Linked DNA regions of Homo sapiens. The protein of the gene in region 6 purifies or fractionates together with the protein of the main gene of each other region. This does not show direct contact. Each region holds a gene or a part of one and is shown on either strand. Other genes may lie near its edges. The genes, in order: CSTPP1, TNIP2, RMND5A, MKLN1, MAEA, KRABD3 and ASPM.

Region 1 (3,500 bases), on a different chromosome or scaffold from region 6:
AAGACTTTTGGGCTCAGGTTGGCAGGTAAACTTACTTGTTTTATGAGCTTCACTAGACTACCAGGACTTCAGAAATAGTTTTTTGAAATACCAATATTTATAAATTTTAGGTAATTCCATCATATTTTCCTGAGGAATGAAACTGTGAAAGAAGTAAATGTCTACTTTGGCAGCAACTTCATAGAATTGCTTTTTGGAAGGATATTCATCACTTTGGGGTTTTTTGTTCTCACTGCTCCAGATGAAAGTATTTTTCTGAATTTTTTATGGTAAATGTGGACACTGAATTGGAAGCTTCTATGTAAAGTTTGTCAGGAAACCTCTGTCATACCTAAGGATAAAATTCAGAGAAAGGGAAGAAGTATTTGAGTACCTGACATCTAAGAAGTTCTGGCCTATGTTGTTTACTGAGTAAACTCCCAATAATGCTTTGAGACAGGCTTTTAAGGAAACATGTTATCAATCACGTACTATGTACCAAACACATAGTGGTGTTTTACCTGTATTATCTTATTTATTTCTCATAACCCTATAATGTAAGTACCATTATTATCCCCATTTTACCATGAAGAATAGGCTTGAAGAATAATTTGTTTATGGTCACATAACTAGGAAGTGGCAGAGCTGAGAATGGAGCTCTCAACTCTCTGTAATCCAAAGCCCAGGTTCTTAACCAGTGATTCTTAAACTTAAGAGTACATAAGAAGCATCAGGAGTACTTGTTAAAAATTACTGGGCTGTAGTAAAAAATGTAAGGTCACTAAATCTGGGACAGTGCCAGACTATAAATCTGCGTTTTAAACGGCATCCCAGGGGATTCAGATCAAGAAATTGATTGACCATATTTTGAGAAACATAGTTAAATTATATTGCTTTTCACACTTGATAAAGAAGAAAACAGGTGTAGACTAAGTAACTATCCAAGATTAAGCTACCAAGACAGAGCCATGATTCAAACTCAGGTCTGTCTCACTCTAATACTCATACTTTTTATTATACGCCCATGATTAACTCACACATTTCCAAGTCACAACAAATGCAGAAAACATGACATCTAATAAACCAAGCCAGATAGATTTCATGGTCTTGTTATTTACCAAAGTTAATAACTTATATATACACCAGTACGAAAATTTTCATGGTCCTTAAACCTTTCCAGTGACTTTTTTTTTTTTTTTCTAATTTAAATTAACTGAGTTTTCTTTTTTTTCTGTTCTGAAATGAAGTCTGGCTCTGTCGCCCAGGCTGGAGTGCAATGGCATGATCTTGGCTCACTGCAACCTCCACCTCCCAGGTTCAAGCAATTCCCCTGCCGCAGCTTCCTGAGTAGCTGGGATTACTAGCTACTCAGGAAGTAGCCACTGCATCTGGCTAATTTTTGTATTATTGGTAGAGACAGGTTTTCACCATGTTGCCAAGCTGGTCTCGAACTCCTGACCTCAAGTGATCCACCCGCCTCAGCCTCCCAAAATGCTGGGATTACAGGCCTGAGCCACTGTGCCTGGCCAGAGTTTTCTTTACAATCATACCATCCATGCTTCAAGCATGGAATTACTAACTCCCTGGGATAAGTTTCTGATGCAGAAATGGAAAAGAATAGAAGGAGGTAGAAAGAAAAGAACTTCCAGGTGTATCTGCTGAATGGTGCTAAATCTCCTCTTCAACCCACCCTTGTGATTGAGATGAAGAATGAAGGGTTGATGCTAATACTAACAGCCAGTCAAATGGCAATTGGTCATGTTCACATCATCTCCCAATCTATCCTTTGAGACTATAGCTCAGTTAGGGTCAGCAAGTTTGCTTTGCCTATTCCAGTCCACTGATGAAGTGTCATCAGACAGAGCCAACACCTGGATTGCCTTACACATGACCTCCTACTAGGATTGGGATCATTCTTTTTAAAATCTTTCTCTCATTTTCTCTTTCTCTCTTGCTATTTGATTGCAGCTCAGCGACATGTCCTCACCTACATGGAGGATGCAGTGTGCCAGCTGCTAGAAAACAGGGAAGATATTAGCCAATATGGAATTGCCAGGTTCTTCACTGAATAGTAAGTACATGAATGTTGTACTAATACAGTGAACCCAGAGGAGGCGCTTGGAAGCAGGCAGGATACTTGAGGAACAGAGCAGGACAATGCTGATTAGGTAGTGGCAGTGAATGTTTAGTTTTGGTAGGTTGGTTGTGGGCCGCCCAAACATGTTTTGGAGCATGCCTTTGGTGCAGCTAGTTTGTCCAGTGATGTCTCATGAATAGTTTTGATTACAGTAGCTTAACAACTGCTTGTTTGATCTATTAGATCTATTTCTGTAGGTTTCTCTTTTAACTTTCTCCTTTATTCAAAATATTCACTTTGATTTCCTTTCGCTGATGTTCATCTAGCCTGTTTTTTTTCATGGCTGGCTTTTCTCATGGAATCTAGGCTAATGTTCCTCTGCAGTTTTCTTTCTACAGGATGCTGTGCCAATCACTTAATGATTTAAGTGTATTTCTAATCAGCAAAGTGAAGAGACAACCCACAGAATGGGAGAAAGTATTTGCAAACTACCCATCTGACAAGGGATTAATAACCAGAATATATAAGGAGCTCAAATATCTCTATAGGAAAACATCCAATAATCCCATCAAAAAATGGACAAAAGATGTGCATAGACACTTCTCAAAACAAGACATACAAATGGCAAACAGGCATAAGCAAAGGTGCTCAACATCATTGATCATCAGAGAAATGCAAATCAAAACTACAATGAGATAACATCTCACCCCAGTTACAATGGCTTGTATCCTAAAGACAGGCAATAACAAATGCTGGCGAGGATGTGGAGAAAGGGAACCCTTCTACACTGTTGATGGGGATGTAAATTAGTATAACCACTGTGGAGAACAGTTTGGAGGTTCCTCAAAAAACTAGGAATAGGGCTGCCATATGATCCAGCAATTCAACTGCTGGGTATATACCCAAAAGAAAGGAAATTAGTGTATCGAATAAATATCAGTACTCCTATGTTTGTTACAGCACTGTTTAGAGTACTAAGATTTGGAAGCAATCTAAGTGTCCATCAACAGATGAATGGGTAAAGAAAATGTGGTACATATACACAATGGAGTATTATTTGGCCCTAAGAAAGAATGAGATCCTGTCATTTGCAACAACATGAATGGAACTGAAGATCATTATGTTAAGTGAAATAAGCCAGGCACAGAAAGACAAACATTGGATGTTCTCACTTGTTTGTGGGATGTAAAAATCAAAACAATTAAACTCATGGACAAAGAGAATAGAAGGATGGTTACCAGAGATTGGGAAGGGTAGCAGGGGGCTGGGGGAAGAGGTGGGGATGGTTGATGGTTACAAAAAAGAAAAAAAAGAATGAAAAAGACCTGCTATTTGATAGCACAACAGGGTGACTCTAGTCAATGATAACTTAATTGTTCATTTTAAAATAACTCAAAGGGTACATTTAGATTGTTTGTAACACAAAGGAAAAATGCTTGATGGG
Region 2 (2,595 bases), on a different chromosome or scaffold from region 6:
GATCTGGGTGTGTCTGTGAGGGTGTTGCCAAGGAGATTAACATTTGAGTCAGTGGGCTGGGGAAGGCAGATCCACCCTCAATCGGGGTGGGCACCATCTAATCAGCTGCCAGCGTGGCCAGAATAAAGCAGGCAGAAAAACGTGAAAAGAGAGACTGGCCTGGCCTCCCAGCCTACATCTTGCTCCGTGCTGGATGCTTCCTGCCCTTGAACATAGGACTCCCAAGTTCTTCAGTTTCGGAACTCGGGACTGGCTCTCCTTGTTCCTCAGCCTGCAGACGGCCTATTGTGGGAACTTGTGATCGTGTGAGTTAATACTTGACACACTCCCCTTTATATATCTATCTGTTCCATTAGTTCTGTCCCTCTAGAGAACCCTAATACAGCCAGGCTCCCACTGACCCCCTTGTCTTGGTGCCCTGGCAGAAGGCAACAGCAGGAGTGTTTTCCCATGCCAGCTGCTGTAAATACTGTTCAGTCCCTGCACCCCAGCTTCCAACACAAATTCTCAGAGCAGTCACAGCAGCAAGAACGTTTATTATAAAAATAGGTGAATAAAGTAAGTGTGCTTTAACTTCCGGCTGGATGACAAATGCTACTGAAATGCAGTTTCTCAGTGCAGACATGTGGCTCGCAATGGCGGGGGTGGCCACCCTAGTGTGACGTGCAGCCGCAATACTCCATTTGACTGGTTCGAGGCAGAGAGGCGACGCTTTATTCCATAGAACAGGATGGGGCTCCCACCCTGGGGACCATACAAGTGACTCCCTCAGGCAGCCACCCCTTTCTAGGCAGGCTGGGGGAGGGGCTGGCACACCAGCACCAGATAGCTCTGGCTTAAGCCTGATGGAGACACAGACTGGGACCTCCCTCTGCCAGATGTTCCTGACCCCATCTCCACCTCCAGCCTCCAGCCTCACTGGCAGTTCCCTGTGACCCAGCCTGTTCCATAGCCAAAGGGACCAAAGTGAACGATCAGAGTGCCCCGCAACTATTCTAGGGGCCTTGGCTCTCAGTAGAGCTCAACCCATGGCATCTGAGAGCACCCACCCTGTCCCTGAGGGCAGCTGCACCGGGCCAGGAGGCCGCAAGGGCACGGGTGAGTCTCGGTCACTGGCAGCACTCAGCCACATGCCTGAGGAGCTCTTCCCCTTGCTCGTCACTGAAGCACTGCAGGCAGTGAGGGCACTGAAGGTCCCCCTGGCCTCTCTGGGCCGCGCCAGGATGCCCGCCCTCTGCAGGGGGTTCTGGCTGCTGGGACCCAGTCCCAGGCCTCCAGCCACCAGGCACCATAAGCTCTAATGCGTCGGCGGCCAAATACTTGGCAGTTTTGCTCCCAGCGTGAATCCGGCCGGCGTCTGGCTCTCGAGAATCCTGGAGAAAAGGCAAGGGTGTATATACGTGGGCTGTGCTGACGGTCACAAAGCCAGGTCTCAGGTTCCAGCAACCAGAGGCACTTCACCTATCCCTGAGCGGAACTTCAGCCCCTCACTTTGCTTCCTGCTGCGCCCCAGAGCCCAGACAAGGGGGCGCTCAGTGAATGACTGAGGATCACACACACGCTCCGTCATGTGCTCATGAAGAAGTAGGCCCTGGCGTGGTCCACCCCCCAGCCCCTTGGTGGAAGTCCTGTTCAGTTGGACCTATCGGCCCCAGGAGACCTGACTGAGAAGGTGGCCCTGATGACGTGGCCCACAGGCCACCACAGAGTGGAGGTGGCAGAGCCTCTGGTGGGGAGCTGGGCAAACTGAGTACCAACCCTACTCTGCACCTCCTCTGTGGGGCCTGGGGGTGCTGAGCACTCTGGGGCTCAGGGGGTCCTTCAGTAGCAGCAAGAGGTGTCCCTGGCTTGGCCCCACCAACCACCTGGCATGATCTGGCACATGTTCTCCAAACATCCGTCCTGAAGCACTGCAGCCTGTGGCCCTCACTGCTTGCCTGGGAACTTCATTCCAGCAGGCCTTGGTGCTTCCACTTCCTGTCTGAATGTGGACTTTCCCCAGTGGGACTACAGCTTATCACCCATGCCTTCAGCACCACTGTCCCTGGCTGTGCCATCTAGGGACTGAGCAACCCTCGAGGGGCCACAGGCTACTGTTGAAAGGGAACCAGAGGCCACTTAGTACAAGGTCTGCAGGCCCCACCAGGAACTTTACCCCCGGGGGTAAGAATCTGGGCCTGCAAGTCTGGAACCAGTTCATCTGGTCCAAAATCTTCAAGAGGCGGCCTGAGACCATCCTCACGATTGTACCAATAGTGCTCCTTCAATCCAAATCACATGCTTCCTTGAATTCATGAAGGCCAGAAAAACCTGTCCAGCCCTCTGCTGCAGACTTAGTCCCAGGGTTAGTCCCATAGTCCACCATGACTCTCCCGTGCCCTTCATGCGGAGGAGAAGCAGAAACCACTGAGGCCCAGTGGCTGCTCGGAACAGGGCAGTGGGGGGTGGCCTCACAGCCCCAGGGTCCCTGTTCACACCCTGAAACACGGCTGACGTCCTAGCTCCAGCCCGGGACGCATCGATTCTCAAGAGGCATCACTACTGTTCAGTCTGTGCCAGGAGAGGAAGCTCTTTGAGTGGGGCCCAGGCTATTCC
Region 3 (3,126 bases), on a different chromosome or scaffold from region 6:
AGTGGCTCACGCCTGTAATCCCAGCACTTTGGGAGGCTGAGGTGGGCAGATCACTTGAGGGTCAGGAGTTCGAGACCAGCCTGGCCAACATGGTGAAACACTGTCTACTAAAAATAAAAAAAAATTAGCTGGGCATGGTGGCACATGCCTGTAATCCCAGCTACCCGGGAGGCTGAGGCACGAGAATCGCTTGGACCCAGGAGGTGGAGGTTGCAGTGAGCCGAGATTGGGCTACTGCACTCCAGCCCAGGCAACAGAGTGAGAGTCTGTCTCAAAACAACAACAAAAAACAACTCGGGACACTGCTCAGTCACCTTCTCTTCTCACTGTTGGTGGCACAGAAACACAGTAAGATGGGGACAGATATTTTCTTAAATTCTTGACATGCAGACCCTTAGCAAATACAGACAGCAATTTTCTCTTCTCACAGTCAGCACCTCCCTACTCCCTCCCTCATACCTTTGTCACCTGGCACATTTATACAGACTGGTTCCACAAAACACTTTTTAAATGTGCATTTCTTTAATTTTTAAAAATATACACAGGAAAAGCCATGTGTTTTACATAGGAATACACACATTAACAAAGCATTTCTTATAGTTTTCCAAAACTCTATTATATCAGTCCGAAATTTATAAATTAAATATATCAGAATTCTTAAAGTTAAAATGAATTCCCTGAAACTACTGGATATGCTACTTTTTCCAAAATCAAATGAACAGAGGATATGGATGTGGTTTGTGTTAAATAAGGTTTATTGTTAGCTTTATTGCCTATAGTCTATAAGATGCAACTTTACTGTGCCTTTGCAAACAGGATACATTTCTTAAAAAATTGATCAAAATTTTCCATACATATAGCTCTATATGATAGATTACAGTGCAACACTATTCTCGTTACATAATTATAGAAATACTATAGAACCCAAGAGCACGGGGTAAGCAAAATAAATACAATCCTGAGCCATCTGAACAAGATGATTTGATGAATCCTTTAGTGTAAGTTTAGAAAACACAGAGAAGGAAAAAAATACATGCATACTGCAGTCATGAGCAAAATACATCAAACACCTGTTCCTTGCTAGGTGCAGGTGGGGGCAATGGTGAACTTCAGACACATGCACACTCACTCACACTCCCATTTTCTTCTGCTTCCCTCCCAGCCCCAACACATTCATTCCCGCCCCTTCCCAAAAAAAAGATCAGGCACTAAATCCTAGTGAACCCCACAACTGCCTTGCTGGAGAAGGTTAAGTGACTGCTAAAGTAAGAGTGTATGTAGGTCCTCACCCATAACATGAAACAAAGCATGTGCTGTAAGCCAATTCCAGCTGCTTTTGCCTCTTTGGAAGTAAATGAAGCATATGCCCACTACAGCTTGAAACTGCAGTGGAAATGTCTTGAAAACAAAATTTTGTTTCTCTTGCTATGTCTTGAAGTAAAATCAACAGTGGAAAATTCATCCTAAAACTGCCTCATCTGCTATTAAAATACATTTGTCATTCTATTTTTGGTATCTATTCAATTATAGTTCATTAAGAACGGTTCATGAAGCTTGTACCTGCTTATGGTAAACATCAGTGTACCACACAAAACCTGCCACACCTAGACAGGCTTATGAAACACCAAATCTTCTATGTGTTCCTTGCTAACATTCCCTCAAGACCACAGCATTCTAGTGTTACCAGAGATAAAGTACGTATAGTTAAGTGATGAAAGAAAGGTATTTGGTTTGTGTCGTCACCTTATACATCCTAGTGATGAAACTAACCAAACTATGCCTCCATGCCTTCCCTGAAAATAACCTGAGTCGGCTGACGAAACAGACTGAGCAGCGTGGCTCTCAGTCCACTTTATCAGAGGTTGAGCTGGAAAACCAGAGGGCTAATGTAGTCTACCAGCAGCTTGTGCGGATAACCAAGAGTTCTTGGCTGTTGCAGTATCCACTGTCCCAAAGGCTAAGCCACTGAGGTGGAAATCAATCGCAGCATAAAGAAGACTGAACTTAAGCTGCATAACCTGCGAGACTACCTGGAGAGGACAAAAGAGGATCAGGATCCTCATTTCCCACAAAATGTGGTGTGGGTTTTAGTGTCTCTATGCATTAGCTGCTACAGAGAAGTTAACATTTACTTCATAGCTTTCTTATTTTCAATTAAATGCTCACACTCAAAAAATACACACCCTATGAATATGAGGTGGCTCTTTTCTTCAAATTTTTTAAAATAAAGAGGCACCAATACCCGTTCATTTATGTATTAGAAGTCTCGTATAATCACCAATAAAACAGAAATAGCATCTGTGATCACACAACGGAGAAAAAAGATCAAGAGACAACCTTAGCCACTGTAAAACTGTACTTGAACACTCAGATGCTCTGGCTAAGTCAGAATCTAAAGATTTGCTAATAAGGTTTTATTGGTTTAGCATAGTCCCATGGCCTTTGTCTATAACTGATATGTGGAAACGGTTCCCAAGGAAATTTAAGAAACCATTCTGAAATTCTGCCTTTGATGTACATTATAATTAAATGTGACTGTTATAAACGTTGCCTCTATCATATTATCTTTTGTAAAGTGGAGGCAAAGAGAGACAAAAAGCATCCTCCTGGACTGCTGACATGCAGAAAGCATCAGCGATGATAGGGTTGTGACAGCATTTATGGAGTTTCTAGGGCAGGGGGGACAGAATGCTGTATCTCAGCATCTTTGGTTAAGGTCTGGCCTCTTTAAATCCACCTCTCCCTCACATTTAGTCTCTCATGAATTTTAAGTCCATGCACTTGAAGACGGTCACAAGATATAATTTCCATATAATATGTCAGATTCATAAGAGTTTCAGATTTTTGGTCCTCACCCTGCCCAGTGGGAGTACACGGGCCTTACACAGAAAGCTGCAGAGTCCAATGCTTCAGTTAAAGCATGTTCTTTTCAAAGTTTTCTTGAGCTGCACAAAAAACCGTCAACAGTTTTTTGGCTCCCAGCACTGGGAGAGGGATAAAGCTGAGCTCTGGCTTTTGTCCTTTAAAGTGGCCCAAGCCGACTGTATGAAGAGTCTGGTCATCAAACACATTTACCACCAGCCTTCAGAGTACATCTGTCTCATTCAAACCTTACAGGAAGCCTAA
Region 4 (3,500 bases), about 18 Mb from region 6:
TTGCTATACCAGTTGAGACAAGGTTGTACTATATCAGGATCATCAATGCCACTAAGTTCAACATACCAGATGCTAAAGTTAAAGCTGGGTCCCCAGGACAAGAGTGGAACTTTAAGGAGAAAAAACAAAAAGAAGAAGAAAAATATTAACACAGTTCAAATAAAACTTTAGCAAAGTAAAAGCACTATTCAACCTTATAAGGATTCATTCAACGAATTTTCTGGGCATCTTTTATATGACTAGCATGGTGCTAAGGCTACAACAGTAAAACGAAACAGATGACCCATGCCACCATAAGATTTCCTTAGTTAATAAAAACACTGTAAGATAAATTAAAAATGTGCACATGTCTACCCCCAAATAAATGCCACCAGAATTAGATGATTTAACAGGTAAATTTTATCAAATGTACAAGCAGCAAAAAATTACTTTAGAATTTAGTCTACATCAGAACACTGAAAGAGACTGAAATTATTTATCAGTGGCACAACCCTGAAATCCAAATCAGAAGAAAAAAGACTTAAGGCCAATCACAGCTATGAATACATATTTAAATACAAATTAAAAGGAGAAAAGTTGCAAAAAATTCTATCAGATTTTCATTGTAACCAAACAGATCTCATTCCAGGAATGGAAAGATGATGGTTCAATAAATAATAGGAGCTATATTAATATAATCTACCACGTTAACAAAATAAAAGAAAAAACACATTTGATGACTTAAATACATTATTATTTTTAAACCCTCAATATATAAGCAATATAAGGCAATAAAAAATTTCCTTAGATTTTTTTAAAAAGCATCAAAAACCTTAAAAATTAAACCTACTGGGAAAATACTAAATATTCCCACTCAAGTCAGAACAAGACAAAGATGTCCAATATCTCTACTATTTGTCACTAATTAGAGGTCTCAACCAGTGCAATAAGGAAACAAACAAACAAATTAAGAAAAACGAATTGTAATTTAAAGATGACCTGTCTACCTAAAAAAATTCAAGAGAGCCAGGAGCAGTAGCTCAAGCCTGTAATCCCAGCACTTTGGGAGGCCGTGGCAAGAGGATCACTTGAGGCCAGGAATTCAAAACCAGCCTGGCAAACACAGTGAAACTCTGTCTCCACTAAAAATAGAAAAAATAGCCAGTCATGGTGGCGTGCGCCTATAATCCCAGCTACTTGGGAGGCTGTGGCAAGAGAATCACTTGAACCCAGGAGGTGGAGGTTGCAGTGAGCTGCCATGACACCACTGTACTCCAGCCTGGGCGACAGAATAAGACTGTGTCTCAGTGGAAAAAAATATATATATATATTCAATTGAAAAACTTTTTATTTGTAAACAAGGTAAACACACAAAAATCAACTTTTCCTATACCTACAATAACCAATTAGAAAATATACCTCAAAAAAGTCCTATTTATAATGGCAAAAAGCTGAAAATACTTCAGAATAAACTTAAAATACGCAATATTTATAAGAAAATATAAAATTTTAGTGAATAATTGAATAAATGAAAGAACATACTATGTTCCTATATAGGAAAACTCAATATTGTAAATGTGTAGCTCTCTCCAATTAATTATAAATTTAACATCATGTCAATCAAAATCCCAATGGTCTTTCCAGAGGTCCCACGTAGTCAAAACTACTTTTTTTTTTAATAACAACACTAGTTATTTTTCAAAACAACTATTTTTCAAAATAACATAATAAACACTTTTCTAGCCTTTTAATAATAGCAACATTGCACTAATGGTACAAAAGCAATGGTGTGTAAAACTGCTAGCACCTTGGTACCAAACTAATGGCACCAAAAAGTACTATTAGTGCTCAGTAAGTACAAGGTGCACTGTATGCCTCACCACCATACACTGGCAGTAAAATAAAATAAAATAAAATAAAATAAAATAAAATAAAATAAAATAAAAATAATTTTTACCAATGGCACAGAAAAATTAATTTTATTAAATTCCCATCAAGTACACATCTGTCTAGTATCCTGTGTGACAAAATGAGATTTGCATATAAAGCATTTTTGTTGTGTACCAAACCACAATGGTTATCTCAAGGAAAGGACCTGTACAATTATTTAAGTTGTGAGTTTAAAAATCAATTTATTTTTCATGGAATGCCATTTTATTCTTGAAAGAAAAACAGACAACCTATGATTATTCAGATTTGGGTATTTGCCAAACATTTACATGTTATTTCAAGGAAAATACTTAACGATATTTGCTGTCAAGGATAAAAACCAAGCTTTCAAGAGAAAAATTAGAATTTTGGAAGATAAGTACCCACCACTGTGAGCTTAACTGATTCCCAACACTTAGATTTTTTTAAATGAGATTAGATGTGATATTAATAAATGTGATTTTTAAAATATTACATAATGAAGTGTTTCAACATTTGGGAGATCTGTGTAATTCAGTGAACCATATTTTCTAAATAACCAATGAATGTTACAAAATCACACCTGGGTAAAAAGTCCAAGACAGACCACTGGGTAAAAAGTCCAAGATAGACCAGTGAATTTTAATGTAACAACAGATTCACTGATGCAGTTTCAGAATCAATAATGCAACTATCTTTAAGAAACTAACATTTGTAGAGTTTTGATGAAGCATCAAAATAGAATATCCAGAATAGCTGATACCAGGCGTAATGATTTCCAATATCCGACTGAATAAGGAAAATGTATGGGGTATGATACTTTTATATATTTTTGTCATCTAAAACAGGGGTCCCAAACCCCCAGGCCCAAACCTGTACAGGTCCCTGGCCTGTTAGGAACCCAGACGCATGGCAGGAGGTGCGCAGTGTGTTAAGGGAGCATTACTGCCTGGGCTCTGCCTCCTGTCAGATCAGCGTTGGCATTAGATTCTCAAAGGACTGCAAACTCTATCATGAACTGCAAATACAAGGGATCTAAGTTGTGCACTCCTTATGAGAATCTAATGCTTGATGATCTGAGATGGAAAAGTTTCATCCCAAAACCATCTCTCCACCATACCCTGCCCCAACTTCTGGGTCCACAGAAAAACTGTCTTCCACAAAACTGGTCGCTGGTGTCAAAAAGGTTGGGGACCACTGATATAAAGGAAGCTGTGTGAATAAAAACACAGGCAGTAGCAACCAGCCATAAGGATGTATGAAGGAATGCTGGGATATTTAATATGCCTTTCTGTTTATGTATGTAAACAACACACATTTCAAAAAGTTTTTTTTTAACAACAAATATTAAATTATCTTTATTGTTTTAGTGTTTCTTTATGTAGCAGTGTCATTTAAAAGTTTATCTACTAAATCACATAGCAATAACCATCTAGTAGTATAAGAGTCAGAATAAAATAATGATTCTAAACTAAAAGCACCAAGAATATAGTCTATATATGTCACCAGACATAAAATATTAGAGATTTCCAGGTCCAAGTCTCATTAAGAATTCATTTATTGGTCCTGGTGCAGTGGCTCATGTCTGTAATCCCAACACTTTGGGAGGCAGA
Region 5 (3,500 bases), on a different chromosome or scaffold from region 6:
ACCGTTATGTGAGACAGCGGTCACGACTCACGAGGGAAAAGGGCAGAAGTGGGAGATGCTGGGGCTGCAGTTTCAACAGTGGAGTCAGAGAAGCTTCACAAGCTGACAGCTCAGCGAAGATTGAAGGAGGTGAGGACATGGGACCACGGACGTTGGCAAAGATTGAAGGTGAGGACATGGGACCATGGACATCTGTGGAAGGAGCGCTCCAGACAGAGGAAGGTGGCAGTAAAACCCTGGGCTCGGCATGCTGGCCTGGCTGAATGGCGGCAGAAAGGCCACTGGGCCCAGCACCCTACAGGGCAAAGGGCCTGGGAGCCACTGTAACGACCCTGGCCTTCATCCCCAGGTCAGGAAACTCCTAGAACAAAAAGACGACAGGATCTGGCGCTGGGGCAGCCGGGGTGGGCATGAGCAGAGCAGGAGCAGCCAGAAGGCTATTCAATATTCCAGAGAGAGATGCGACTTGAGCCGCAGGGGCAGAGGTGGGAAGAGCAGCAGCAGCTGGGCCTGGGCATGTCCTGACGCCAGGGTGGAGGGGCAGACGGGCTGGGCATGAGCTGTGACAACAGAGGCATCAAGGCCAACCTGAAGGTTCTGGCCTGACCAAGGGAGATGGAGGGGCTGCCCTTCCCGAAGAGAAGGGAGACTGGTAGAATTGGTTTGGGCAGCAGGTGTTAAGATGATAAGCTCAGATCTAAATATGCCAAGGAGCTGGGCATGGTGGCTCACACCTGTTATTCCAACACTTTTGGACGCCCAGGAGGGAGGAATGCTTGAGCCCAAGAGATGGAGACCAGCCTAGACAACGGAGCTAGAACCTATCTCTACAAATAAAAAAATTAGCCAGACACGGAAGCAGGCGCCCGTGGTCCCAGTTACCCGGGAGGCTGAGGCAGGAAGATCACCTGAGCCCAGGAGGTCAAGGCTGAAGTGAGCTGTGATCATGCCACTGCACTCCCGCCTGGGTGCCAGAGTGAGATCCCATCTCTAAAAATAATAATAATTTTAATAATAATAATTTTAATGCCAAAGTGCCTTGCCAAGTGGGTATGTTTTACAGGCTACTGGATACAGGGCTCTGGGGTTGGGAAGATACCTGCCTGGGAGTCATCAGTATACACAGAGGGTCCTATCAGTCCACTAGACCCTGTGAGAGCACCAAGGCAGCGGTGCTCACAGCAACACCCAGGGCCAAGGACTGAGCCCGGGGGGAAACGCGAGGATGGCGCTCTAGGAGCCCGAGGGGGTGAGCTGTGTTCCAGCCCTGTGAGAGGTCGAGATGGGCAGCAAGAATCCATCATGGGTCTCAGCAGTGTCTTGGGGTTACCTGGTGCCCTGACTATAGCACTGTGATGGGGGTAAAACCAGATGAGAAGCAATTCCAGAGACCCCAAGGCAGGGCTGGCTCAGACAGAGGGGACCTGTGGGTCCCGCACACAGTTAACCAGAAGACGGCGCGTGTGCCTCTTCGTGGATAACCAGAAGACGGCGCGTGTGCCTCTTCGTGGATAACCAGAAGACGGCGCGTGTGCCTCTTCGTGGATAACCAGAAGACGGCACATGCCTCTTCAGGTCACAGGGATGGGGCAGGGGGTCTGGTGCATGAACAAAGGCTGGCCTTGGGCGGGGCACAAATGACATATCTCCAGTAAAAGAAAGGAAACAGTGAGCACAAGCAGGCAGGCGACAGACAGGGCCAAGCCGCGGGCAGAGCACAAGGACGGGGCAGGCATGGGGGGCTCATGGAGAAGGAGGGGCATATGGAACAGTACCTGGGGTACAGGGTGCTAAAATGCCTCAAGAAGCATGGCTATGCTGCCAGGCAGTACTCGACACCCACTCCAGGCAGCAACCGGGTTCCTCAGCAGATAGGTGCGGCTTCTGTGGCCAGTGCAGGGGCCTTGCACAGCGGGGTTTCCATGCTGGAATGTTCTAGAACAATGGGAAGCAGAGAAGGGCAGGGGATGGGGCTACATCGCGAGGGGTGGAGGCAAGGGAGAAAGGAAACGCAAGAGGCTGACCACAGCCAGATGAGAGCACAGGCCATGAGACCAAGACATACTCTAGAATGCGGCAAGTGGACAAAAGTGAGATGCGAAGTTTAGGAATTTCCCAGACAGACGGGGGAGAAATTGGTTCGGCCAACAGCCATTGACTGACTCCTGTGCCAGGCACTCGTGGGTGTGACGTGAACGACGACAAAGGACGGCCCGTGCCCTCGCAGAGCAGACGCTCTAAAGGAGACGCCCAACCAAAGCACAGAGAGATGCAGGCGACCGCGTCAGACTGTGACGAGTGCTGCAAAGGAAACCAGGCAGGCAAGGGACAAAGGGCAAAAGGAACCACATCCTAATTTTATTTAGGGCAGCAATGAGCCCACACTCAAGCGCGTGCTCTCTCTCTATATGTATGTATACACACACACATACGCACGTACTTTTTCAGGCTCCTCCAAAGCTAGAAATGGCCAGCCCCGTGCTCTGGGGAATGAGCTGAAGTGTAAACGCTTGGGAGGATGTCCACTAAGGCCCCCACGCAGGGAGCTGGCCACGCAGGGCGGCACTGATTCCCCCTTACCCTCCTCCTGGCCGCGAAGGCCGCAGCCCCAGCAGCCATCGTGGACTCAAGGATAAACGTGAGAAACAGAAATCGAGAAAACCTCCGAGTTCTCGGCTGTCACTGAACAAGTGCCGGGGGACATCGCTGTCAACTGACTTGGGAAGGGTGGCTTAGTAAGGCAGGTCTGGGGCTCGTCTGGGGCCCCAAGGCCGAGATGCGGCATTTGGTTTTGCGCCTGGTATCGTATCTTTGAACTGCCTTCCAGACATGCGAAGAGAGCTCCGGGAGGTGACTACACGGGATGGCCTCAGGGAGAGAGGCCTGGGGAGGGCAGCAGTGTGGGGACAGGAGCTTGGAGACCGTCTGTGAAGCCACACAACCTCTGGAGGGCTGGCTGGTGACATAAAACAAAAGGCCTCCAAGACTAGAGAAGACAGCATAGGCAAGTGAGGACATGCAGCGAGGGGTGGGGAGAGCCCAGAGGATGGTGTCACGGGAGCCGAGTGATGGGAGCGTCTCGAGGCAGTGGGGTCCGCTGTGGACTGACCGCTTTCAGGAGCATCATCCTGTCCTCAAGAGGAACATCTGGGTGGAGTGTTGGGGGGCAAAAATCTGATTTAGGTAAAACAGGAAGAGAGACATGAAGGGGCAGAGACAGGGAGTAGTAGCTGGAGGAGGACGGGGGCAAGGAAGGGGTTTTCACGAGAGGAAGACTCAGAGCCACGTGCACACCAGGGAGCTGCACAGCCAATGGGAAAACCGACCAACAGAGAGAGAACCAAGTGCAGGAGCAGCCACAAGGCAAAGGGCACAGCACAGGTGAGGGGGGCACAGCGCAAGTGAGGGAGGCACAGGCACGGGTGAGGGGGGCACAGGCACGGGTGAGGAACGGCACAGGCATGGGTGAGGGGTACAGGTGAGGAATGGCATGGGTGACG
Region 6 (3,500 bases):
CTGGCTGGTAGGGCCGTCTGGAAGGCAGCTGAGCAGGCCTCGGAGAGGGCAGGGCTCTCTTGCCGCAGCTGCTGTCGGGAAAGAGGGAGAATCAACAACTGGTAAGATGCCCCTAACATTGTCACACTGTCACATTCTGGGTCCTTTCCTTGCCATGTACTAACAATGACCAGGATGTCAGCCACCTATGTGTTGTCATCACTGGGCTCTGAATGGGGCCATGGTGGGTGGAGGGTGACAAAGCCACACAGAAACCACCATGCGAAAGTCAGAGCTGCCCTCTCGCCAGCTATGGGCATGTGCTCAGAGGGCGGCACACGGCCTAGCCACGAGGAACAGCAGGTGACTCTGCCTCCCGGCCTGTGCCTGCAAGCCCACATGCAGTGCAGTGCCGTGGACTTGTGCTTCATCATGCGGAGTGCAGAGGAGGCTGCGTGCACTGCCCCACTGTCTGACTTACCCTCGGGGCTCGCTCTCTCTCCATCCAGGCTGGCTCCCCGGCTCTCGCTCTCGGGGCTGTCCATAGCGCCCTTGACTTCTCCAAACAAGAACTCTGGGATCTCCTTCACCAGCTGCACCAGGGCTGTGAGGTGCAGGCTGTGCCGGGGCTGTCCCCCTGCAGAGAGGCCACAGTGACCCCCCCGCACCCCTGCGGCTGCTCAGCACTCACACCTACGTGCGTGTTTTCACACCCAGCATCTCACGTAATCCTCCCAGCCACATGAGGAGCAGCCAGAGGAGACACCATGTCCCATGAGATATAGAGGACCTGGGCTCAGGCCAGGCGCTCTGGCCAAGGGACAGCCAGGGCATGGGGGCGGGGCCTGGGTAACAGGGCTCCTCTGTTCTACGTTACTCATTAATCTCCATGCCTCCCAGGGGAATGCCCAGGCGGGCTGCCGCTACACTTCTTCCACCATCTGGGCCCTCTGCCTTTCCTGGCACCCCCTAAATGCCTGGCCTTGCCCAGTCTGGGCCGGTGGAGCACATCCACCATCTGAGGTCTTGGGATGTAAGCCTCGTGGCAGGACTTTTGGGAGCTGGAGCAGGTTCTGCAGGGGTGGCTGTGATAAGGCTTCAGGGTGGTGGTGGGTGGGGGGCCTGAGGCAGGAGGTACTCTCCAGGGTGACCCCAGGCTTTCTCTGAGTGCTTCTCTGCATAACAGGCTTCCAGCCCAGAGGGATGAGGGGTGAAAGCTTGGGAGGTTGCAGTAGGGGAGGCAGGGAGGTGAGAGGCTGGACTGAGTAGGCTGAGGTCACGCATTGCCTGGGGCTGAGGACCGATGAGTGGGAGGAGACACCCAAAGTCTGACAGATAACTTACCCTGGGGATCTCCACAACCAGCAGGCTCCTGCCCCTCATCAGCGTGGCTCCCTCCCCCAACAGCTCTTCCAGGCTCTGAGGGTGACAGGAAAGCAGAGAGGGGGAGCAGCTCAGCTGTCCCTGGGAAAGAAGAGGGAACTGTGGCCCTGGGAATGGAGTGGTCTCCGCTTCGCACACAGTTGCATAGCAGCCCAGGCCCCTGCAGGTCTGTGCACATTCATGTGACCACTTAAACTCAAAGAACCGCAGAGTGGTCGGAACCTCAGAGGCCGCCGCATACCCCCACCGAATTGTACCTAGAACCCGGTCCCGGGACATAGAATAGCAGCAGCGTGAACGATCCCCGTGTTCATTTCTCAGGTGGAAAGACTAAGGCTGCCGGGTCCAGGGACTCCGGCCTCCCTTCCACCGCCCACCAGGCTCCTGCCACACGTGCTGCTCCCTCCCGTCCTTACCCACAGAGACCAGCGTCTCGTAGTTCTCCCGCATCACGTCTCGGTAGAACTCCCTCTGCCCCTCCTCCAGGAGCCGCCACTCCTCCTCCGAGAACCGCACGGCCAAGTCCTTGAAGGTGATGGACACCTGCAGGCACAGTCTCCGGGGGGGTTGGTTGTTCCATCCCAGAGGGGACAGCCTAGCTGTCCCTGCACTTGGTAACCCCACCTAGGCCTCCAGGCGCACACTCCAGGATAATAGCCAGGGTCTGACATGCAGGAATCCCCTCAAGAGACAGTGCTGGGGGTGAGCTGTGTCTCTGCAGAGACACGCTGAAGTCCTAACCCTCACGCCTGTAAGTAGGACCTTATTTAGAAACAGAGTCCCTGCAGATGGAATTACTTAAGATGAGGTCATACTCCTAAGTAGGGGGGACCCTTAGTCCAGTATGACTCATTCCTTATCAGAAGAGACACAGAGACAGACACAAAAGAAGAAAGCTGTGTGAAGACAGGCAGAGACTACAGTCATGCAGCCACAAGCCAAGGAATGCCCAGGGCCACCAGAAGCCACAAGAGGCAAGAAGGATCCTGGCCCAGAGCCTTCAGAGGGAGTGTGGCCTGCCCACACTGTGACGTAGGGCTTCGGGTCTGCAGGGCTGTGAGAGAAGACATTCTTGCTGTCCACCTAGTTTGTGTGCTGGGTTTAGAGAAGTGCTCAGAAGAAACCTGGGGTTGCCCTTGGAAGCTTTGGGTCACCAGGCTCCTTTACACCCTGTACTCCTATCTCCTATTCTCTGTACTCATCTCCTCCTACCCTGTGGCTTTTTAAAATAACACGAGCATTTTTGTCTATGTTTCTTTACAAAATAATCCTTCGGCTGGGTGTGGTGGCTCACGCCTGTAATCCCAGCACTTCGGGGGGCCAAGGCAGACAGATCACCTGAGATCAGGAGTTCGAGACCAGGCTGGCCAATATGGTGAAACCTTGTCTCTACTAAAAATGCAAAAATTAGGTGTGGTGGTGGGCGCCTGTAATCTCAGCTACTCAGGAGGCTGAGGCAGGAGAATTGCTTGACCTCGGAAGGCAGAGGTTGCAGTGAGCCGAGATCACGCCATTGCACTCCAGTCTGGGCAATATGGCGAGACTCCATCTCAAAAAAAAAAAAAAAAAAAAAAAGTCCTTCAGTGGACTTTAAAGTGGCCATCAGACACTAGAAAATGACCAGCATCAATAGGCTTGAATTTAAAATTATGGCAAAAATTAACTGTGCAAATTAAGCAAACAGAAGGTAAATTATGGGAAGGGTCCTTCCTGTTGAGAAATGAATGTTAAACTGTTTATTTGTGAGAACAAATTATTAAAGAAAATGAACACGCCCCTAATAAAGCAAAGACAATTCACCGCTTGTTTCATCTGCTCAGGGCAGTTATTTTAATTAATTAATTAAAAAAGACAGGACCTTACTATGTTGCCCAGGCCAGTCTTGAACTCCTGGGCTCAAGTGGTTCTCCCACATTGGTCTCCCAAAGTGCTAGGATTACAGGCGTGAGCCCCTGCACCCACCCAAGTCAGTGATTCTAAAAACTGTCCCAGGCTGGGTGTGATGGTTCACGCCTGTAATCCCAGCACTTTGGGAGGCCCAGGTGGGTGGATCACCTGAGGTCAGGAGTTCAAGACCAGCCTGGCCAACATGGTGAAACCCCATCTCTAATAAAATACAAAAATTAGCCAGGCATGGT
Region 7 (3,500 bases), on a different chromosome or scaffold from region 6:
GTCACTACAAAAAAAATCAACTAAAGATAAAAGAAGTTAACAACTGAGAAAATGACTGGCAAAAATCAGTAACTCTGACTTATTAAAACTCTCCATGCTACATAAATCTGGAAACTCTATTTCACATAAAACTGGAGCTGAAAGAGACAAATATTTACTTATAAAATTAAAAGTTATATGGGAAACAAACACTAATTTTTTTTAGAAAAAATATGAACAGAGTAAAAATATGCCTTATAGTTATCATATAATATCATGTTTTATAGCTCTGGGAAAATAGAAAATAAAATGTTCTGTTAGCATGAATCCTTCTGTGCCCTAAAAAAACCCTATGGATCATACTATTATTACCTAAAAAGTCTATTCTCAAATGCAGCAGAGTGATAATTTTTATAAGGTAGATATTATTTTTAGATATGGAATAATATTGGTGATTTCAATTTTAATAACATTGGATTAAGATGAAAGAATGAGAAGATAAAGGTCCCTCAGCAATATAACTCACAAACATGTTCAGAAGCAGTAAGAAGTCACATTAATTATTTTTTGAAAGTCAATAATCTACATTTTTAATTTATGCATATAGCATAGCTAATGTACTATTGCTGGGTCCATTTATTCAAGGAATAATTGCCGCTATGTGTCAGACATTGTTCTAGGCCTAGGAATGGACACTTAAGTGAACAAAGCAAAGATTCTGGTTCTTGTAGTTTCCATTAAAAGACCATTTAGTAAAATTTTTCTTCCCCCAAATTATAAAATCTGTAAGATGATTTAACAACATGTATAAAAGTCATCGTAGGCCGGGCATGGTGGCTCATACCAGGTGTAGTGACTCATAGCGCTCTGTCACTCATGCTGGAGTGCAGTGGCACAATCTCTGTTCACTGCACCTCTGCCTCCTGGGTATAAGCGACTCTCCCGCCTCAGCCTTTCGAGTAGCAGGGACTACAGGTGCACACCATCATGCCCAGCCAACTTCTGCATTATCAGTAGGGATGGGGTTTCACCATGCCAGCCGGGCAGGTCACAAACTCCTGACCTCAAGTGATCCGCCCACTTTGGCCTCCCAAAGTGCTGGGACCACAGGTGTAAGCCACTGCACCCAGCCTTATTTTTACAACTTTGATAACTTTAGCGTATACCCCAAATCTGTAAGACATAATATTATCATTCAAATGCAACTCATGGCTTCTCATTGTACTCTGATTTTCTCTAGCTTTTGAATTCTTTATTCTAATATCAGTTTTAAGTCTGACATAAAAGCATGAGAGTTCTAATCAAAATCCAATCTTTTATCATAATAAAAACTATCAAGAAATTATTAGAATTTAAAAAGGAAAATAGGCCTATTAATTAGATTTGTATAACATAATATTTTATGCCTATGAGTCCCCAACAAAGCCTCAAGCTTCTATTTAGATATAAAATGTAAAAGTCACTACTGGATCCACAAGCAGGACTATGGTAAAGAAATTTCTCCACCTAAACTGCTCCTTTAACATGATGTTACATGTTTATTTTTTCATTTTGGCAAATATTGATTGAATGTCATCTTCGTGTTAGTCTACATCCTAAGTGCCAGGATACAGAATCTGAAAAGATGGACACAGGACCTGTCTTCAGGGAGTTCACACCTTTTTATTTCTTGAGATGGAGTCCCGCCCTTGTCGCCCAGGCTGGAGTGCAATGGCAAGAACCTGGCTCGCTGCAACCTCCACCTCTGGGGCCCAAGTGACTCTCCCAGCCTCCCAAGCAGCTGGGACCACAGGTACCGGCCACCAAGCCCAGCCAACTCTTGTATTCCCAGCAGAGACAGGGCCTCATCATCCTGGTCAGGCTGGTCTTGAACTCCTGACCTCAGATGGTCCACCTGCCTCAGCCTCCCAAAGTGCTGGGATCACAGGCATGAGCCACCACGCCCCACTAGGAGTTCACACTTTAGTTAGGGAAAATATACAATAAGCAAGCCAATTTTTAAAATAAGAACTTCAATCAGATTTAAATGCTACAAATACAATCACAGGAAGCTGGGATGTGAATGATAGGGCTCTCAAACAGAAAATTAAGAGAAACGATTATTTCTTACGATGTTTGTCTTTCTTTGTATTGGTGCTCAGCTGAGTCTGCAGTGCCTCAGAAGCAGCCTTCATTTTATAAAAAATCTATTATTTCTCCTTCCAGTTGTTTTTTCTCTTCTTCGAGCTTCCTTATCTCCTCCTGTTGAATCATTTTAAGATGCTTGAACTTGTCCTGCAGCTCTTTTTCAGCTTCTTTCTCCTTGACTCGCTGCATAAATCTGTTTCAACTCTTCTTCTCTCTGACATTGATCATAGCACTCTTGTCTTTTGGCTTCAAAGATTTCTTGAAAACTAACTGGCTGGTTGTCTGGGCCCAGATCTGTAAAGCCCATTTTCTGCAGTTTTTGGTACCTACAGCATTCATAGTGCTGAGTGTAGGTTTTTCTTTTAGATTTTCCACATTGGTACAAAGAAGCATATCTTGGAGCTTAACGAAGTCACAGTGATTTTCATTTTCCACTTGGAAAACTCCCCAAGGCTAGTGACGGCCTCTGACCATCCTTTTACCAACTTTCACTTCATCCATACTCCCTACCACAGCAAAGGATAACAGCCCATGTTTTTGGCCGGGCGCGGTGGCTCACGCCTGAAATCCCAGCACCCTGGGAGGCGAGGGGAGGGATCACGAGGTCAGGAGATTGCCCGACCACCCCGGCCAACACGGTGAAACCCCGTCTCCACTAAAAATACAAAAAAATTAGCCGGGCATGGTCGTGGGTGCCCGCAGTCCAAATATCTGTCTTTTCTTTATGCTAGAAACATCAGTTATTCTCTTCTAGCTATTTTGAAATATACAATAATTACTATAGTGACCCTACTGATCTATTGAACATTTGGTCTTTATTTCTTTTATCAAACAGAAAGTTGACACAATATCCTGTCATTTTAATACACACTTTAACAATTCTTCCAGGCTGTTATTCAACAACAAAAATCAATTCATTTCCATGTGAAATGCAATTAATGCTTCATTCGATGTCATGTTTTCAGAGAGTTTAAGTATAATAAATACTTGCCTGTTTTTAATGGTTTTATGAAGGTCAAACTGGACTGTGCCACAGCGATAATGGGTTTTGTCCTTTTGTTTGTTTTAGAAATTGGAGTTCTGAATATTGATAAATCTAAAATAAATTAGAAAACAAAACTAAGAGCATTAAAATACAAATTCCCTAAATAGGTCAGTGATTTGAAAGTTAAAGTTTGGGTTCTTCACAATCATATTCATTTAGCAAACACTTAATAACCACTGTACTCCACGCACTAATGCTATGAATTCAGTGGTTTATCAAACCAACATCCAGAAGTCACAGACCATAAACCACAATTTATTTTGTGTTTACAGAGGCTAAAGTCTAGATTCAACCAAAACTTATTGTGTCTGTATATTCCAGACTCTCTACGAGGTGCTGAGAATATGCA

What was found.
Region 1: the proteins of KRABD3 (region 6) and CSTPP1 purify together in Homo sapiens (co-immunoprecipitation; one large-scale study listed by IntAct). This does not show direct contact.
Region 2: the proteins of KRABD3 (region 6) and TNIP2 purify together in Homo sapiens (co-immunoprecipitation; one large-scale study listed by IntAct). This does not show direct contact.
Region 3: the proteins of KRABD3 (region 6) and RMND5A purify together in Homo sapiens (co-immunoprecipitation; one large-scale study listed by IntAct). This does not show direct contact.
Region 4: the proteins of KRABD3 (region 6) and MKLN1 purify together in Homo sapiens (co-immunoprecipitation; one large-scale study listed by IntAct). This does not show direct contact.
Region 5: the proteins of KRABD3 (region 6) and MAEA purify together in Homo sapiens (affinity purification with mass spectrometry; one large-scale study listed by BioGRID and IntAct). This does not show direct contact.
Region 7: the proteins of KRABD3 (region 6) and ASPM purify together in Homo sapiens (co-immunoprecipitation; one large-scale study listed by IntAct). This does not show direct contact.

What each region holds. Positions count from the first base shown.
Region 1 is NC_000011.10:46,985,261-46,988,760, forward strand, and holds part of CSTPP1 (centriolar satellite-associated tubulin polyglutamylase complex regulator 1), read left to right. Parts: intron 1-1,947; coding exon 1,948-2,050; intron 2,051-3,500. UniProt on the Homo sapiens protein: Regulator of the tubulin polyglutamylase complex (TPGC) that controls cytoskeletal organization, nuclear shape, and cilium disassembly by balancing microtubule and actin assembly.
Region 2 is NC_000004.12:2,741,148-2,743,742, forward strand, and holds the end of TNIP2 (TNFAIP3-interacting protein 2), read right to left. Parts: intron 1,374-2,595; coding exon 1,110-1,373; 3' UTR 501-1,109; downstream 1-500. UniProt on the Homo sapiens protein: Inhibits NF-kappa-B activation by blocking the interaction of RIPK1 with its downstream effector NEMO/IKBKG.
Region 3 is NC_000002.12:86,775,416-86,778,541, reverse strand, and holds the end of RMND5A (E3 ubiquitin-protein transferase RMND5A), read right to left. Parts: 3' UTR 501-3,126; downstream 1-500.
Region 4 is NC_000007.14:131,393,876-131,397,375, reverse strand, and holds part of MKLN1 (muskelin), read right to left. Parts: intron 110-3,500; coding exon 1-109. UniProt on the Homo sapiens protein: Component of the CTLH E3 ubiquitin-protein ligase complex that selectively accepts ubiquitin from UBE2H and mediates ubiquitination and subsequent proteasomal degradation of the transcription factor HBP1.
Region 5 is NC_000004.12:1,296,391-1,299,890, reverse strand, and holds part of MAEA (E3 ubiquitin-protein transferase MAEA), read right to left. Parts: intron 1,918-3,500; exon of another isoform or gene 1,776-1,917; intron 1-1,775.
Region 6 is NC_000007.14:149,717,951-149,721,450, reverse strand, and holds part of KRABD3 (protein KRBA1), read right to left. Parts: intron 1,983-3,500; exon of another isoform or gene 1,906-1,982; coding exon 1,779-1,905; intron 1,444-1,778; coding exon 1,324-1,443; intron 617-1,323; coding exon 461-616; intron 72-460; coding exon of another isoform or gene 69-71; coding exon 1-68.
Region 7 is NC_000001.11:197,136,670-197,140,169, forward strand, and holds part of ASPM (abnormal spindle-like microcephaly-associated protein), read right to left. Parts: intron 3,203-3,500; coding exon 3,098-3,202; intron 2,639-3,097; exon of another isoform or gene 1,879-2,638; intron 1-1,878. UniProt on the Homo sapiens protein: Involved in mitotic spindle regulation and coordination of mitotic processes.